2 separate regions of the Homo sapiens genome follow, and region 1 is linked to region 2. The links come from fine-mapping of genetic effects on plasma protein levels. A gene starts in region 2. The other region holds a variant in brackets. All regions are shown on one strand. Distances are from middle to middle.

Region 1 (9,870 bases), 130 kb before region 2:
GGCCTTAATCACCTTTAAAAATAAACTCTGAGAACACAGTCACCTCGAAATCACCTTTATTCTCATAGGCGTTCTGAAATCAAGATTCCAGAGGCTACAGGTATCTGCATACAGTACCTGAATCTGCTCCAGGACTTCTTGCCGCATCTCCACAGCCATATGGTATACATGATGATCAGAGTCATTGTACATTACAGCATTTTGGAACATCAGCATCAGGTCTCGCAGGAATTGGGCCATGGTGCGAATCCGACCCTTAGAGAGATTTCTCTTCAGGCTAGTTAAGTCCATGGGTCTGCAGGTGGCCAAGAAAAAACAAAGAAAATCAAACCTTCATGTGGAACATATGATAACCTAACACGTTCTCTTGAAGAACTAACCAGTTCTTAATGAAAACAGTAGCAAAGATAACAACCCTCATCAGATAATAAAATAGCAACAGCAGTTAATATTTGCCTGTTTACAATGGGCCAAACACTGTATTTCTATACTAACTCACTTAATCCTCTCAATAAACCTGTAAGGTAGGTATCATTAATATCTCATTTTTTTTTTTTTTGAGTCGGAGTTTCACTCTTGTTGCCCAGGCCGGAGTGCAATGGAGCAATCTCAGCTCACTGCAACTTCCACCTTCCAGGTTCAAGCAATTCCCCTGTCTCAGCCTCCAGAATAGCTGGGATTACAGGCGTGCGCCATCATGCCCAGCTAATTTTTGTATTTTTAGTAGAGATAGGGTTTCACCATGTTGGTCAGGCTAGTCTCGAACTCCTAGCCTCAGGGGATCCACCTTCCTTGGCCTCCCAAAGTACTGGGATTACAAGTGTGAGCCACCGCCCCCGGCCTTATTATCTCCATTTCACAGATGAAGAAATTGAAATCTAAAGAGGTTAAGTACTCACTGAAAGGCACACAGCCTGAATTCCAATTCAGAGGCAGCCTGACTCCAGAGCCCACAGGTCAAGCCACTATATTCTACTATCAGAGGAGGAGTGCTGGCCCCAGGTATCAAAGTTGTAAAGAGCACCAATCATCAGTTTATCACACAGTAGTTATTTGCTGTTTACAATGTATAGTCATATATTATTTCATCTACTTCTCTTACTGCACAAATAAAAAGCTAAGAATAATTTTTTTCTCCTTTCATGGAGATGAAAAAAGGATCAAGTGAATATTAAGACAATATTAATGAGACACAGAAAGTAGATATATAAGAGAAGGCACAGCAGTGTAGAAAGAAGACTGAACTGCAGGTAAGAATCTGGGGCTTAGTTCTAGCTCTGCTATTAACTGTTGGTTGATCACGAGCAAGTCATGACCAAGCACCTCTGAGCTTTAGTTTCCTCATTCCTAAAGAAGTTTGTCTCTGCTGTTTGAATGATGGTATCATTGTCTCTGCTGTTTGAATGATGGTATCCCCTCCAAAATTCATGTTGAAACTTAATCCCAAGTGCAACAGTATTAAGAGGTGGAGCCTTTGGGAGGTAATTAATTCATGAGTGCTCTGCCTTCATGAATGGGATTAGCATCCTTATAAAAGGGCTCCATATCGAAGAGAGTGCCCTCTTATCCTTCTGTCCCTTCTGCCATGTGAGGATACAGCATTCGTCCCCTCTGCAGAATACAACAACAAGGCATCATCTTAGAAGCAGAAGCAGAGAGTAACCCACCTCACACACCAAAACTACCAATGCCTTGATCTTGCACTTCCCAGCCTCCAGAACCAAAACAAAGAAACATAGATTTCTATTATTTATAAATTATCCAGCCTGTGGTATTGTGCTATAGCAGCACAGACTAGTGACTCTCCAAAGGTCCTATCATGATCTTTTACATTCTATTACCATACAGGTTTATGACAGCATTTTAGATGACCTATGCTATAAAAACCCAAAATAGGCCGAGCACAGTGGTTCAAGCCTGTAATCCCAGCACTTTGGGAGGCCGAGGCAGGCGGATCACGAGGTCAAGAGATTGAGACCATCCTGGCCAACATAGTGAAACCCTGTCTCTACTAAAAATACAAAAATTAGCTGGGCGTGGTGACGTGTGCCTGTGGTTCCAGCTACTCAGGAGGCTGAGGCAGGAGAATCACTTGAACCCGGGAGGCGGAGGTTGCAGTGAGCCGAGATCTCATCACTGCACTCCAGCCTGGTGACAGAGCAAGACTGTCTCAAAAAAAAAAAAAAAAAAAAATCCAAAATAGGCTAGGATTACCTGCCTGTAATCCCAGCATTTTGGAAGGCTGAGGTGGGAGGATTGCTTGAGACTACGAGCTTAAGACCAACCTGGGCAATCTAGTGAGACCCCATATCTACAAAAAATTTAAAAATTCCTCCTCAGTGATATTCTGAAGAAAAATAAAGTTATTAATAACATTTCAAACAAAGAAAATATTTTATTATAATAAAAATATCAGGCCAGGCACAGTGGCTCACACCTGTAATCCCAGCACTTTGGGAGGCTGAGGTGGGTGAACTGCATGAGCCCAGGAGTCTGAGACAAGCCTGGGCACCATGGTGAAACTCTATCTCTATAAAAAATACAAAAATTAGCCGGGCATGGTGGCACACACCTCTAGACCCAGTTATTAGGGAGGCTGAGGTGGAAGGATTGCTTGAACCTGGGCAGTTGAGGCTCAGTTATCCAAGAAATGTGCCACTGCACTCCAGCCTGAGCAACAGAGTGAGACCTGTCTCAAAAAATAATAGTAAGTAAAAATTTAAAAAATAATAAATTTAAAAATTAGCTAAGTGCAGTGGCACATGCCTGTAGTCCCAGCTACTCCGGAGGCTGAAGTGGGAAGATTGCTTGAGCCCAGGAGGTCAAGGCTGCAGTGAACCATGATTGCACCACTGCACTCCAGCAACAGAGTGAGACCCTGTCTCAAAAAAATTTTTTTAAATAAAAAATAAAAATAAAATCCCAAAATACTGAGAGGTGAAGCTGGCTGGGCTTCTGGGTTGGGTGGGACTTGGAGAACTTTTCTGTCTAGCTAAAGGATTGTAAACACACCAATCAGTGCTCTGTATCTAGCTAAAGGTTTGTAAACACACCAATCAGCACTCTGTAAAAACGCACCAATCAGCGCTCTGTGTCTAGCTAAACATTTGTAAATGCACCAATCAGCGCTCTGTGTCTAGCTAAAGCTTTGTAAATGCACCAATCAGCACTCTGTAAAAACGCACCAAAAAAGGTTTGTAAACGCACCAATCAGCACTCTATAAAAATGGACCAATCAGCACTCTGTAAAATGGACCAATCAGTACTATGTAAAATGGACAAATCAGCAGGATGTGGAGGAGGCCAAATAAGGGAATAAAAGCTGGCCCCTCAAGGCAGCAGTGGCAACCCGCTGGAGTCCCCTTCCACACTGTGGAGGCTTTGTTCTTTCACTCCGCAATAAATCTTGCTGCTCCTCACTCTTTGGGTCCGCACTACCTTTATGAACTGTAACACTCACCGTGAAGGTCAGCCGCTTCGCTCCTGAAGCCAGCAAGACCACGAACCCAACAAGAGGAATAAACAACTCCGGATGTACCACCTTTAAGAGCTGTAACACTCACCGCCAAGGTCTGCAGCTTCACTCCTGAAGCCAGCGAGACCACCAACCCACTGGGAGGAACGAACAACTCCAGAGGCGCCACCTTTAAGAGCTGTAACACTCGCTGTGAAGGTCTGCAGCTTCACTCCTGAACTCAGCGAGACCACAAACCCACCGGGAGGAAGAAACTCCGGACACATCTGAACATCCGAAGGAACAAACTCTGGACACACCATCTTTAAGAACTGTAACACCACGAGAGTCTGCAGCTTCATTCCTGAAGTCAGCGAGACCAAGAACCCACCGGAAGGAACCAATTCCGGACACAATACTACAATCAACCAATGTTCATAACTTCCATTTGGATCGACATCTGTGCCTTACTATACCTATAACTAACTGAATAAATACAGGGTTCCTTTTAAAGTTTTGCTCCAAAAGAATAGTGTCAAAAACAACCAAAGGCTAATTTAAGATTATAATTAATGATCAGGCTGGACACCAAGGCTCACACCTATAATCCCAGCCTTTGGAAGGCCTAGGCAGGTGGATTGCTTGAGCTCAGGAGTTCAAGACCAGCCTGGGCAACATGGCAAAGCTCCGTTTCTACAAAAAATACAAATATTAGCCGGACGTGATGGCTCATGCTTGTAGTCTTAGCTACTTGGGAGGCTGAGGCTGGAGAATAGCTGAGCCTGGGAAGAGGATGTTGCAGTGAGCCAAGACTGTACCACTGCACTCCAGCCTGGGCAACAGAGTGAGACCCTGTCAAAAAAAAAAAAAAAAAAAAA[T/A]ATATATATATATAGAATGGATCATATTACTTAAAAGTCAATAGTACAAAATAAAAAGCCTATATCATCCTTTTGTTCCCTGCATTCCTTCTTAAATGAAGATATGATACTGAGCTCATCATAACTTTATAAACTTGTTTGGCTATGAAACATATCTTGAGTTTGTAAGTTATAAAAATAATCTAACAGATGGGAAATAAAAAATGAAAAGGCAGATATAAAAGCAACCAACCTTTCTTGACCCCTTTTTCACTGACCTTTTCACCACATCCTTGTACCCTGGGGCCTGCCTTTCTGACACAGGCTTCAGAAATGGACTGCTGAACCTGTTAAGGGACAAACCCAGAGAGGATAAAGAAACCCTGGCAAGGCACTCTGAAGGAGAAGAGTAGCTCAGTTCTTAGTAGACTTCCTTTAGGGGAATGCAGACTGTCAGCACCATTAGGAAAAAATCTATTTGTTCCCTCTTGCCAGAGAGTTAAAAAAAACACAAAACTATAAAATATTTCACTATTATTACAATATACTGATTTAGGGCTCAGAAATTTGTTCAAAGTTCCCAAGGCCCTGTCTCTGTGAAAAAAGAGAATCCACCAGATTGAAAAGAAGAATATACATTTTAAATATAAATTTTATCATGTAGTAGGAACCAATTTCTAGAGGCAACTCAAATGGCACAGCAACTATTTCTTGTACAGACTTGTGAAAGCAGCTGTGGGTACTTTGGGATAAATCGGGCTTAGATACAGAATCTACCTTTCAACTATGGCTCATTTGAGGGATGAACATATCTCCTTTTATGCTTAAACCCCAATATGTATTACTGCTTCAGCTCTGAACATAATCCTATTACCACTTTGGAGACCTACCTGTGACTGGCAATCATCTTCCAGACTGGCAGGAGAGTCTTCTTAAATAGCAAATGATCCTGAACAGGGTCATCCTGGCTTAGATCAGTCCTATGAGGATAAAACATGAAGAAAAGAGACAGTAACTTCACAAATAATATTCTATCTCCCCCAGGTGGGTAATGAGGTTTTCTTAAGACATGCTCCTAATTAATATCTGAAGCTTTTTATCTCCCCTTATCTGGCCAAGCAGACTTAGTTATTAATATCTATTGTTTTCTCTTTTAATTTTTTAATTTTATTTTTCTGAGACAGAGTCTTGCTCTGTTGCCCAGGCTGGAGTGCAGTGGCATGATCTCAGCTCACTGCAACCTCTGCCTCCCGGGTTCCAGCGATTCTCCTGCCTCAGCCTCCCAAGTAGCTGGGACTAAAGTTGCATACCACCACACCCAACTAATTTTTGTATTTTCCATAGAGACGGGGTTTTGCCATGTTGGCCAGGCTGGTCTCAAACTCCTGGCCTTAAGTGATCCACCCGCCTCAGCCTCCCAAAGTGCTGGGATTACAGGCATGAACCACCATGCCCAGCCAATTTTTTTTTTTTTTGAGACAGGGTCTTGCTCTGTTGCCCAGGCTGGAGTGCAGTAGTGTGATCGTGGCTTACTGCAGCCTCAACCTGCTGGGCTCAAGCGATCCTCCTGCCTCAGCCTCCCAAGTAGCTGGGACTCCAGGCACATGCCACCACGCCCTGCAGCTAATTTCTGTATTTGTTGTAGAGACAAGGTCCCACTACGTTGCCCAGGCTGGATATCTACTGCTTTCTAATAAAGATTTCATATTTAATCTAAATTGTAAGGTAAGAATGTGGAATTTACCATCCAAGACTATGAACTGTCATGAGATAAGATGTCTCAGATTGGGCCCGGTGTGGTGGCTCACGCCTGTAATCCCAGCACTTTGGGAGGCCGAGGCAGGCGGATCACAAGGTCAGGAGATTGAGACCATCCTGGCTAACACGGTGAAACCCCGTTTCTACTAAAAATACACAAAAAATTAGCTGGGCGTGGTGGCGGGTGCCTGTAGTCCCAGCTACTTGGGAGGCTGAGGCAGGAGAATGGTGTGAACCTAGGAGGCAGAGCTTGCAGTGAGCCGAGATCACGCCACTGCACTGCAGCCTGGGCGACCGAGCGAAACTCCGTCTCAAAAAAAAAAAAAAAAAAAAAAAGTCTCAGATTGCAGATTTCCTGCTGTTTGTACAGTCACAGTATGTCATCTCTGCACTCTATTGCTCATACTTAAGGAGTTAAAGAAAAGCAAATGAAGGCATTCCTCACCAATCTACATTTTAAACTGTATCCTATTTGTGTACCAAAAATTGAAATCTAGGCTGGGCACAGTGGCTCAGGCTTATAATCCCAGTACTTTGGGAGGCTGAGGTGGGATTGCTTGAAGCCAGGAGTTCAAGACCCAGCTTGGGCAACAAAGCAAGACCCTGTCTCTATGAGAAAAAAAAGAAATCTGCTCTTCAAAAAATATATATATATATATATTCATATATAAATATATGCATGGTTCAGCTGTATATCTTAAACAAAAAAACACTAGAATAATTATTAGTTTTACCTTTCCACAGACAACTGGGTGGATCTGGGATATACTGAAGAAAAAAAAAACAGTTCATACTATATTCTCTCAACAGATGGATCTGACACAGGCTGGAAAAAGAACAATTTATTTATTACCATAACAAAAATAACTTTGCTGGACGTAGTGGCTCATGCCTATAATCTCAGCACTTTGAAAGGCTGAGGCAGGAGAATCACTTGAGGCCAGGAGTCACAGATAAAAACAACTTTGTTTTTCTGCTTTAAAAAGTAATTCACTTCATGCCAGATGCAGTAGTTCATGCCTATAATCCCAGGACTTTGGGAGGCCAAGGCAGGGGATCGCTTGAGTCCAGGAGTTTGAGACCAGTCTGGTCAATGTGATGAAACCCTGTCTCTAACAAAAATACAAAAAAATCAGCTGGTTGTGGTGGTGCACATCTGTGTTCCCAGCTATTCATGAGGCTGAGGTGAGAGGATCACCTGAGCCCAGGAGGCGGAGGCTGAAGTGAGCCAAGATCATGCCATTGCACTCTAACTTGGGCAACAGAGTGAGATCCTATCTCAAAAAAAAAAATTAATATTTTTTTGGTTTCCTGTTAAAAAAAAACAGCCCCCATTAAGATTTGAAAATGTGTTATTTAGTCCTATAATTATCTATACAAAGATGAGACAATTGCATAAACCAGGGGTGTCCAATCTTTTGGCTTCCCTGGGCCACACTGGAGGAAGAAGAAGAATTGTCTTGGACCACACATAAAATACACTAACAATAGCTGATGAGCTGGAAAAAAAAAAAAAAAAAGAAAAAAAAAAGGGAAAAAAAAAGGGTCAGTGCATAAATCTCATAATGTTTTAAGAATTTGTGTTTGGCCACATTCAAAGCTGTCCTGGGCTGCAGGCTAGGGATTAGACAAGCTTGACATAAACAATCCCCTAAGAGATGTGAAAAAGAAACAAAGATCACAAACTTCAAAATAATTTTTTTCTTCTCTTTTATTTCTTGTTTTGTTTTCTGAGACAGGGTCTTGCTCTGTCACCCAGGCTGTGTAGTGACATGATCATAGCTCACTGTAACCTTCACCTCCCAAGTTCAAGCAGTCCTCCTGCCTTGGCCTCCTGTGTAGCTAGGACTACAGGTGCATGCCCCCACACCCAATAAATTTTGTTTATTTTTTGTAAAGATGAGGTTTCACTATATTGCCCAGGCTAGTCTCAAAATCCTGAGCTCAAGCAATCCTCCTGCCTCTGCCTCCCAAAGTGCTGAGATTACAGGTGTGAGCCACTGCGCCTGGCCTAATTTTTTCTTTAAAAAAAAATTTTTTTATCCTCTTCCTTGTCTCCATCAAAATAATTTTCCATTTCAAGTTCATAAAATCTATTTTAATATTTTTAAAAGAGGTATAGTTTGGGCCAGGCACAGTGGCTCAAGCCTGTAATCCCAACACTTTAGGAGGCTGAGGTAGGAGGATCACTTGAAACCAGGAGTTCAAGACAAGCCTGGGCAATATAGCAAGGCCAGCCCTGTCTACAAAAAATAAAAAATCAGCTGGGTGTGGTGGCCCATGGCTGTATTCCCAGCTACTTGGAAGCCTGAGGTGGGAGGATCCCTTGAGTTCAGGAAGTCAAGCTGCAGTGAGTCATGATCGTGCCCATTGCACTCCAGCCTGGGTGATGGAGCTAGACCCTGTCTCTATTAAAGAAAAAAAAAGCACCATAGTTTGTATATTAGGCATAGTTTGTATAATATTAGCTCCATCACCCAGGCTGGAGTGATACAGACTTGGCTAGAGTACAGTGGCACAATCATGGCTCACTGCAGCTTGACCTCCTGGGCTCAGGTGATCCTCCCACCTCAGCTTCCGGAGTACCTGAGACTATAGACAAGTGACACCATACCTGGCTAATTTTTTTTTAATTTTTATTTTGTAGAGGCATGGTCTCCCTATGTTGCCCAGGCTGGTCTCAAAGTCCTGGGATCAAGGGATCCTCCTGCCTTGGCCTCCCAAAGTGCTGGAATTACAGGTGTGAGCCACCACACCTAGCCTTGAAAGACAGTCCTAATATTGATTAAACATATTTGTTTTATAACAGGAGAGCATATAGACTTCTATTTATATGATGTTAAAATTATACTTAATTAATTATATTTTTTGTGTTTTCCAACTCTAATTTTCTTTAACTTATAAAAGTAATCCATTTCATGATTCAAATAGGCATAAACAGAAGTACGAATCTTAACAAACTTGGATGAAAGTCTACGCTTACAGCTTTGAGGAGGTAGCATGGCTGAAAAGTGTATCCACCAAGGGAGTCTCCTTAATGTTAAAGGCATCATCACACTCGCCTGAAGGGGGCTGGTCTTCCATCTCTGACACATATACTTCACCCTGGTCCTCCCCTTTGGATTCTTGCTGAGCCTCCCCCTAGGAATGCCAGGAAACAGGAAACTTTAGAAGGAGATTTACTTTCTGCATAGTAATTTTACTTGCATAGAGTAAATGAAGGCTGCCCTTAAGGTGAGAAGAGGTCAATTACATAAAGCTACAAAAGAAATTAAAGAAAGCTGACTTAACTAGATTTAAGTTAATGAGTTCTTGGTAACAATCTTGCTGGAGGACTTTGACTCTGTGCCACTCACCTCCAGCAAAATGGAAAAGCATTATTTGCCCAATTCTCATTGGATTCTTTAAAAACCATCATGATCACCTGTGGCCCTGGAGTTAACTACTCTAGCTGGCCAGATAATTTTTTTTTTTTTTTTGAGACAGGGTCTCACTCTGTTGCCCAGGCTGGAGTGCAGTAGCATCATCATGGCTCACTGCAGCCTTGCACTCCTGGGCTCCCCCGAGACCCCTAAGTAGCTGGAACTACAGGAACATGCCACCATACCTGGCTAATTTGTTTTTTGTTTTTTGTAGAGATGGTGTCTCCCTGTATTGCCCAGACTGGTCTTGAACTCCTGAGCTCAAGAGATCCTACTGCCTCTGCCTCCCAAAGCACTGGGATTACAGGCATGAGCCATTGCACCCCACCTGCCAGATAATATTAATAATGATGACGGTATTCTAAATTTTACTGATTGC
Region 2 (9,544 bases):
GCCTATAGTCCCAGCTACTGAGGAGGCTGAGGCAGGAGAATCGCTTGAACCTGGGAGGCGGAGGTTGCAGTGAGCCGAGATCATGCCATTGCACTCCAGCCTGGTGGTGACACAGCAAGACTCCATCTCAAAAAAAAAAAAAAAAAAAAGTAGAACTACCATTTGATCCAGCAGTCCCACTACTGAGTGTCTACCCAGAGGAAAAGAAGTCATTATACCAAAAAGATACTTGCACACTCATGTTTATAGCAGCACAATTTGCAATTGCAGAATCATGGAACCAACCCAAATGCCCATCAATCAACGAATGGAACAGAAATTGTGATAGAATAGAATACTACTCAGCCATAAAAAGGAATGAATTGGCCAGGCATGGTGGCTCACGCCGGTAATCCCAGCACTTTGAGAGGCTGAGACAGTCGGATCACAAGGTCAGGAGATCAAGACCATCCTGGCTAAAACAGTGAAACCCCGTCTCCACTAAAAATACAAAAAAAAAAAAAAAAAAAAAGTTAGCCAGGTGTGCTGGCAGGCACCTGTACAGCTACTCGGAGGCTGAGGCAGGAGAATGGCGCGAACCCGGGAGGCGGAGCTTGCAGTGAGCCGAGATCACGCCACTGCACTCCAGCCCGGGCGACAGAGCCAGACTCCGTCTCAAAAAAAAAAAAAAAAGGAATGAATTAACAGCATTTGCAGCAACCTAGATGAGATTGGAGACTATTATTCTAAGTGAAGTAACTCAGGAATGGAAAACCAAACATCGTATATTCTCACTGATATGTGGGAGCTAAGCTATGAGGATACAAAGGCATAAGAATGATACAATGGACTTGGGGACTTGGGGGGAAGCGTGGGGGAGGGGAAGGGATAAAAGACTACAAATAGGGTGCAGTATATACTTCTTGGGTGATGGGTACACCAAAATCTCATAAATCAGCACTAAAGAACTTACTTATGTAACCAAACACCACCTGTATGTACCCCAATAACCTATGGAAAAGAAAAAGTATATCAGAATTTCTCTAGGAAATATGTATTTCCAAAAAGCATATTTGATAATTTTACATGTACAAGATGAAAAAAAAAGCTTTTGAGATTTCAAAAAGTATTTAAGGAAGGTATGAGATTTTATATATTTACCAAAAGGGGAACATGGATTTAAAAAGATTGAGGAATTTCTACAAGTTTACGATGTTACTTCCGGTAGGTACTGAATAAGTGGTAAGTACACAAAGAAAAGTGGCAGATTCAAGTTCTATTGTTGTAACTGGACTAAAAATAATTTTTTTTTTTTGAGGTGGAGTTTTGCTCTTGTTACCCAGGCTGGAGTGCAGTGGCGCGATCTCGGCTCACTGCAACCTCTGCCTCCCGGGTTCAAGCGATTCTCCTGCCTCAGCCTCCCAACTAGCTGGGATTACAGGTATGCCCCACCATGCCTGGCTAATTTTGTATTTTTAGTAGAGATGCGATTTCTCGATGTTGGTCAGGCTGATCTTGAACTCCCGACCTCAGGTGATCTGCCCGCCTCGGCCTCAACAAAGTGCTGGGATTACAGGCATGAGCCACTGTGCCCGGCCATAAATATTTAACTGTACTAACTATTGAGTTGTAAACATTTTCAAAAGAAAACAATTTCTTAGTTGACACTTTACCAAGTTTGAGCAGTGATGGATTTAGGGGCATTCATCTCAACAAAGAACTTGGGGGCCACGTTAAATTTCATCTCAACAAGGTGGAACCTGTGTTTCCTGGATTGTGAAACACAGGACTTGATCCAGGGCAAAGGTCATAATTTGATCCAGTGTGCAAATGTGTCTTTTTTAGTCAGCATAGTTCCGTTCCTTTCTTTTTCTTTCTCCTTTCTCCTTTTCTTTTCTTTCTTTTAATCTCTGTCACCCAGACTGGAGTGCAGTGGTACAATCGCCACTCACTGCAGCCTACAGTCTCGACCTCCCAGGCTCAGGTGAATTCTCCCACCTCAGCCTCCCAAGTAGCTGGGACTGCATGCATGCACTACCACGCCCAGCTAATTTTGTATTTTTTGTAGAGATGGGTTTTCACCATGTTGCCCGGGCTGGTCTCGAACTCTTGAGCTCAAGCAATCCACCCACCTTGGCCTCCCAAAATGCTGGGATTATAGGCGTGAGCCACCATTCCCGGCAGTATTTTCTTTTCTGTTTTTTTTTTTTTTTTTTTTTTGTGTGTGTGTGTGTGTGTGTGTGTGTGTGTGGTTTGGTTGTTTTATTTGTTTGTTTGGTTGGTTTTTTTTGCACGTTCACAGTATTTTCTTTTTCTTTTTTTTTTTTTTGAGACGGAGTCTCGCTCTGTCACCCAGGCTGGAGTGCAGTGGCGCGATCTCAGCTCACTGCAAGCTCCACCTCCCAGGTTCACGCCATTCTCCTGCCTCAGCCTCCCGGGTAGTTGGGACTACAGGCGCCCACCAGCATGCCTGGCTAATTTTTTCTATTTTTTAGTAGCGACGGGGATTCACTGTGTTAGCCAGGATGGTCTCAATCTCCTGACCTCGTGATCTACCCGTCTCAGCCTCCCAAAGTGCTGGGATTACAGGTGTGAGCCACTGCACCCAGCCAGTATTTTCTTAAAGTTGTAATTAGTGGCCAACATTTAAAAATCAGATTTTAGGCCGGGTGCGGTGGCGCACACCTTTAATTGCAGCACTTTGGGAGGCCAAGGTGGGCAGACTGTTTGAGCCCAGGATTCAAGATCAGCCTGGGCATCCGAGATGGCAAAAACCCGTCTCTACAAAAAATACAAAAATTAACCAGGTGTGGTGGCACACTACTACAGTCCCAGCTACTGGGGAGGCTGAGGCAGAAGGATTACTTGAGTATGGGAGGTTGAGGCTGCAGTGAACTGGAATCACACCACTGAACTCCAGCCTGGGTGACAGATTGATACCCTGTCTCAAAAAAAAAATCAGATTTCAAATAAAACTATTAATTTCCAATTTGTCTTGAAAAATGGAAACACTCGGGCCCACATGTAACGGGTGGAGTAATGACTGCCCCCTTTTGACAAGTCATGCCTTTTCCAGCTTGTTATAGTCCATACCACTTTCTATTACTTGCCCCACCTCCTCATTTATACAGCCACTGCCACGTCTATTTCATATTGATTTGTTAGCAACCTGGTTTTGTAACTTTGTTTTCTGCTTCTTGGCTCATCAGAGAATGAGTAGCTACAGAATGGGTCAGATCAGGCTATGCCTCAGGGCACAAGATCCTCATTTGTTTCTCATCAGTGAGGCCCACAACCCAGGTATCCATTTTATAGTTGGATGAACAAAGAAAAGTAATGTGCACCAGGGGATGTAGCAAGTCAAGACCGAGTCAAGGCTAGAACCCAGGACTCCAGCCTCCTATCCACTTCAGAATGATTTTCAGTACATGACACCACTTCCCCATGAATCGGAGGTCTCCTATATGCTTGGCTTTAGCAGGCCCTGAGCAATGATATTTTCCACCCCCAAAGCCCTCTGTTGGTCTGTGCTCTTGAAGAGCACTTGGCTCTACATGGTACCTCCTAGATGACTGTTTTATGGATTTTCAATGAGGCTACTTAACCAGATGTCATTGCTGTCAAGTATTACTGTGGAAAATAGATCTGTCACCAACACTGCTTCATTAAACCATTTAATGAGAAAGGTGTTTAATGTTTTCCCCTGATCCTGACATGCAGCCATAACCTTTAGGATTAGTGAAATTTCCTGGGCAGTCAAATCAGACTGGTGATGTCTTGCTGCCCTGACTTACTGATGTTGGCAGGTGGACAGACCAGGGTTTTTCCTCCTTCCTTCCATATCTGTCTCAAGGCAGCATTTCTACAGCACTGCGTTGTGGACTGAGGTCTCAGGGCAGTGTGGTGGTCTCTCTGTCTCAGGAGTCCCTCCATTCAGTCTCTGGGCAGGAGCCGCATAATAAGATTCCACACACCCATACCACTCACGAAGGCCATGGGCCTTCCAGGGATCTCGGATCCCAGGCTGTTCTTCCTTGGGGGAGTGGCCTGGTTCTAAAACCAGGCCTTGAACTACATCTACAAAACATCTATTGTGGATTATTTATTATCCAAGGGGCAAGCCACTGTGCTAGACGGCTTGCAAGGCCTGCTATTGTAGAAGGTTATGAAACAAGTCAGTTTTAACGAACTTCTTTTTCTTCACCTGTACCTAGTTTCTTCCTCAGTCCTTAAAGCAGATGGAAGAGTTAAAGCCCACGTGGAGCAAATGACACTCTGTTTCTGATCTGATTCTCCCCGCCTCTTAGAGACGCTGTCTTGGTAGTGACCTGGCTGTGGGTTGTTCTGTGACTGTGTAGACCTACCTCAAAAGAGGGAAGAGGGGGGAAAAAGGGGCGAGGAGGAGATGCTTGGGTGGCCAGGCCATTGCTGGCACTCAGTCTATCTCAGTTCGTACACTGTGTTAGGTGTGACCCCAGCCCCTTGCAGGCACCCTGGGCTTCCTGCTCCAGTTCCCCTTGTTCGGCTCGGATGCACCGGGAGGCTGCTGCGCCCTCTCCGGACAGGTGCCCCGGGCCTCGCCTACACCTCACCTCCCCCTCCCACTGTACCCCCGGCCGGTGCGCGCTCTGACACTCACCGGCTGCGAGAGGCAGCGGCGACGGCGGCAGCAGCAGCAGCAACATCAGGACTACGGGCGGCAGCGGTCGCGGGTTCAGGGGGCGCACCATGGCGAGCTGTAGGCGCCGGGCTCCGCGCTCCCCTCGCTCCTCCCCTGGAGCTCTGAGAGCGGGGCTCCCTCGACCGGCACCTCCCGCCCCCGCCTCCCGCCCTCCAGCGCGACGCACACACTCTCCCACCAGGGTCCTGGGCGCCGCCCTCCAACTCCGAAGCGCGCGTCCACACCACGCGCCTCCAGCGCTGGTCCGAGGGACCGCGGGGGTGGGGGCGGGGGAGGGCCGGCGCCCCGGGAGCCGCCGGGCTTGGTGCGGAAGAGGTTGCTCTTTCCGAGGCGGCCCACCTGCTGTCTGACAAGTTCGACTAGCAAGACATTGTGGAAGCTGCCGCTGGAAACTCGCCATCTAGGAGAACCAAATATTTCTCCAAGAAAAGCACCCTTTCTCACTTTCTGGATCCCACTCACCCACACATCAAAGAACAGACACCACCACAAAAGAGATTTTGTAACAAAACTTGAACAAGCCAACACAAGGGCACTTGCATTTCTAGTATTTTTCTTAGAATTTGCACATCTATGATCTCGTTTTTTCCTCTCCTAAGTGTCTTCTAGGGTAAGATTGGGTGGTTATTAAGCTCAAGATGCTGCAAAGATGGGTCGCAGACAGGTGGAATGGCTTTGCTGGGGGAGCAGACCTGGGGCATTAGATTCCAAAATTCAGCCCCGATGGTGTCGTGAGGGAAGATGGAAGATTAAACTCTCCACTAAATAGCAGAGATTTCCTTGGACCAAAGCTCACTGAGGAAGGTGCCTGGAGAGACCATTTAGGAGCCCATCCTTTTCACATGATGAGACTTTCGGAGAGCAAGCTACTCTATCAGGATTAAACAACTAGGTAGAAACACATCTGTGCCCAGAACACAGGACGTCTACCCATAAGGATAAGGGTATTTATTGGGCCTGGGCCTGATTCCCACAAGATCCCAGGATAAAGCCAGAAGCAGAATGGCTTGGAAGAATGAGAACTAAGCAGCGCATAGAAAGAGAGAAGGAGAAGAGGGTGATGAAAGGAAGTGGAGGGTTTCATCCCCTAACCCTCTAACTTGACCCCCTCCTTACTTCCACAGCCAGCCTGGCAGAGGGCCAGCAGGGAGTACTGAGAATCGCAATATAAACCTCTGAGATTTATTGGCTGCTGCTTCTGAATATGGCCATCCTGCTGTGGCCTCTGGGGGGCATTTGCCGATGTAATCAGCCCAGAAAGAGAGTCATTCCAGCTGGGGGTGTAAATCACCCTTGGCAAAGCTAGGAGAGAGACATGTGGCCCTAGATAAGGAAGGAGACTGATGTGGCCTCTGTGCCCTTCCCTCCCTTCTCCTGCCCAGGGGGTGCTGGTTCCTGAGCTGTAATGCACTTTAAATGGAGTTTGTCCTTCGTTTTAATCTATATCTGCCCTGCCAGTTTTACAGAAGAGCTGTAAAAGTGAACATCTGGCTACTCAGCTTTTGTACAAGGCCTGTTTTCCCCCAGCTCCACCCTATCTCCATGTGCCTTTCCCAAGCCCTCCTCTCCAGAAAGGTGAGGGAACATGAAGCTGGGGGGCTACCATTAAAGGCCCCATGATGTCAGGCCCTCTACCCCATTGCCAGAGAGAAATATGCTCCAGGCACCTCATTTTCTCTCACACCTGCTATTACAGGCAGACAATCGTTTTTTGGGTTTTTTTTTTTGAAACTGACAATACTTAAGAAAGGAATTTATAAAGCAAAATGTAACAATTTCAGGCTCTTTGGGATGATAGGAAAGGGCTGAGACCCATGAACCAACAAAGATGTGAGGTGGTCAAGGGGTGTCTCCTCTGCCCTCCCCCTCCTCCAGCCCAAGCCAAATCATGTTATGGGCAGGAAGAGGGTTTGGGAAAGGAAGTTTGCTCAGGGTGCCTACTCTGATAGATACTCAGTGTCTATTCCAGGGCTGTCCCCACAGAATAGACCAAGAATGCAGTATCAAGCTGACGGGCTGGGAGCAATGACCAATCCCACCTGTAACAGGCCAGCCTTTTCATGAGAGAAAATAAAGTGTCTGGTGCATATTTCTGTCTGGGTACAGGGGTGGAGAGCCTCATATCATTGGGCCTTTAATGAGGATTGGAGAAGCTCTGCAAATAAATATGACTCCAAGACTAATATTGACAGCCCTCCAGCACACCCTCTCCACCAACCATGTCCTCTGTGACTGCCAACACCTGCTAGATAAGCAGCATTGCCCCTTGTGGACAATGACAAATGAGCCAGTCCTTTCTACAGAGATGATGTTACTCATCCATCATTCAATTCAATAATGTGTTTTGAGAATGATTATGAGCCCAGCTTTATGCTAGGTGCAAAATGATTAAGACACAAATCCTGCTCGGGGAGGGTGTTACAATCCACTGATTGCAACTCAAATGCCCAAAGACCCTGTATCTTATTCCACTTTCACTTGTAATCTCAATTTTCTCCTCTTATGGTCAGATTACATGGATTCTACCTTCTCTCAAGTCCTCTCTCTCTCCATTGAGCTTTAATTCCTGCTGCTATCCTAATCCAGGATGTTAGCAGTATAATAAATAGTTAAGACCACAAGCTTTACAGACTGCCTAGATTCAAATGCCGACACTAGCTGGATGACCTTGGGCAAGTCACTTAATTTTTCTGTGCTTCCATTTCTTCACCTGTAAAATTAAGGATAATAGTATCTATTTCACATTGTGAGGATTAAATGAGTATAGTATTTAAATGAAGGTGTAGGCTGGGCGCGGTGGCTCACGCCTGTAATCCCAGCACTTTGGGAGGCCAAGGTGGGCGGATCACGAGGTCAGGAGTTCAAGACCAGCCTGGCCAATATGATGAAACCCCATCTCTACTAAAATTACAAAGATTAGCCGGGCATGGTGGCACATGCCTGTATTCCCAGCTACTCGGGAGGCTCAGTGGGGCAGAAGAATTGCTTGAACCCAGGAGGCGGAGGTTGCAGTGAGCCAAGATCATGCTATTGCACTCCAGCCTGGGCAGTAGAGCGAGACTCCGACTCAAAAAAAAAAAAAGAAAAGAAAAAAAAAGGTGTAGCATTATACCTGGCATATAGCAAGCATCGAATAAATATCATCCCAGGTAGCATGCAGGAGTTAATTATTCTGTGTGTGAACTTGGCCAGACCCCACCACCCGACCTGCTGATTTGGAGCTGGAAGTGGCACTTTTTGCTCCTTTTGCTGAATATACTACTAGACCAGAGTGCTTGTAGGGATGGAAACAAAAAGAGCCATTTTTTATTTTTCTACCTTGTCAATTTCTTGAGGGCAGGGACTGTGTCATATTTTAACAACTGTGATACTCAGAATTGGCAACTCCAGATGCATATGTTTAAAGGAATTGGTGTTTCCTTAACCTATGCCTGAACAGAACAGGGAGAGAATCCCCCATGCCTCCTACTTTATACTCCTGATAAAGAAAGGGAAATATTCCTCCTTAATATAGTTTGGATATTTGTCCCCACCCAAATCTCATGATGAAATGTAATCCCTAATGTTGGAGGTGGGGCCTGGTGGAGGTGTCTGGATCATGGGGGTGGATCCTTCATGAATGGCTTGGGCCATTCTCTTGGGGATAAGTGAGCTGTCACTGAGTTCACAAGAGATCCAGTCATTTAAAAGTGTGTGGCACCTCCTCCCATAACTCCCTCCCTCTCTTGCTCCTGCTCTGGATATGTGACATGTCTGCTTCTCCTTCACCTTCTGACATGATTGTAAGCTTCCAGAGGCCTACCCAGGAGCTGAGCAGATGCCAACACCATGCTTCCCATAAAGCCTGCAGAACCATGAGCTAATTAAGCTTCTTTTCCTTATAAATTGTTCAGTCTCCCAGGCAAGCATGGTGGTCAGCCAGGCATGGTGGTGTCGGCCTGTAGTCCCAGCTACTTGGGAGGCTAAGGCAGAGGTTGCAGTGAGCCAAGATCATGCCACCACACTATAGCCTGGGTGACACAGTGAGACCCTGTCTCCAAAAAAAAAAAAAAGCCGGGCGCGGTGGCTCACGCCTGTAATCCCAGCACTTTGGGAGGCCGAGATGGGCGGATCATGAGGTCAGGAGATTGAGACCATCCTGGCTAACACGGTGAAACCCCATCTCTACTAAAAATGAAAAAAAAAAATTAGCCTGACGTGGTGGCGGGCACCTGTAGTCCCAGCTACTCGGGAGGCTGAGGCAGGAGAATGGCATGAACCCAGGAGGCAGAGCTTGCAGTGAGCTGAGATCATGCCACTGCACTCCAGCAGGGGTGACAGAGCAAGACTCTGTCTCAAAAAAAAAAAAAATTACCCAGTCTCAGGTATTTTTTTTCTTTTTCTTTCTTCCTTTTTTTTTTTTTTTTTTTGAGACAGGGTCTCACTCTACTGCCCAGGCTGGAGCACAGTGGTGCAATCATGGCTCACCACAGCCTCAACTTCACATGCTCTAGTGATCCTCCCACTTCAGCCTCTCAAGTAGGTGGGACTACAGGTGCACACCACCACACCTGGCTAATTTTTAAAAATTATTCGTAGAAGGCCAGACGCAGTGGCTCATGCCTGTAATCCCAGCACTTTGAGAAGCCAAGGCAGGTGGATCACCTGAGGTCAGGAGTTTGGGACTAGCTTGACCAACATGGTGAAACCCTGTCTCTATTAAAAATACAAAAAAATTAGCCAGGCATGGTGGCAGGCGCCTGTAATCCCAGCTACTTGGGAGGCTGAGACAGGAGAATCACTTGAACCCGGGAGGCGGAGGTTGCAGTAAGCCAAGATTGTGCCATTGCACTCCAGCCTGGGCAACAAGAGCAAAACTCCATTTTTTTTTTTTGAGACGGAGTT

Which allele goes with the higher level. Alleles are on the strand shown, and positions count from the first base shown. The strength of an association depends on the size of the effect and on how common the allele is.
In carriers of allele T in region 1, the plasma level of the protein whose gene starts at base 4,906 in region 2 tends to be lower than with A alone (weak association).

What was found. PIP is the posterior inclusion probability: the model's chance that the variant is causal. Protein levels are from antibody-based Olink assays in UK Biobank. Linkage for the fine-mapping came from a reference panel and not from the study's own genotypes, which makes the PIPs less certain.
Region 1: its variant is fine-mapped to the plasma level of the GFRA3 protein (UK Biobank, PIP above 0.99).

Annotation. Positions count from the first base shown.
Region 1 is chr5:138,140,588-138,150,457 of GRCh38, forward strand. BRD8 (bromodomain containing 8) reads right to left here. Exons shown (of 27, transcript NM_139199.2): 23 at 9,053-9,210; 24 at 5,202-5,291; 25 at 4,590-4,658; 26 at 118-295. Among named protein-coding and RNA genes, the nearest start is that of NME5, 6.1 kb to the left of the region's middle. The variant T/A (reference allele first, on the strand shown) is at 4,333.
Region 2 is chr5:138,269,716-138,279,259 of GRCh38, forward strand. It overlaps GFRA3 (GDNF family receptor alpha 3), which reads right to left and starts at 4,906. Exons shown (of 8, transcript NM_001496.4): 1 at 4,619-4,906. The coding sequence starts at 4,709. RefSeq lists silencers at 4,629-4,818, 4,909-4,998.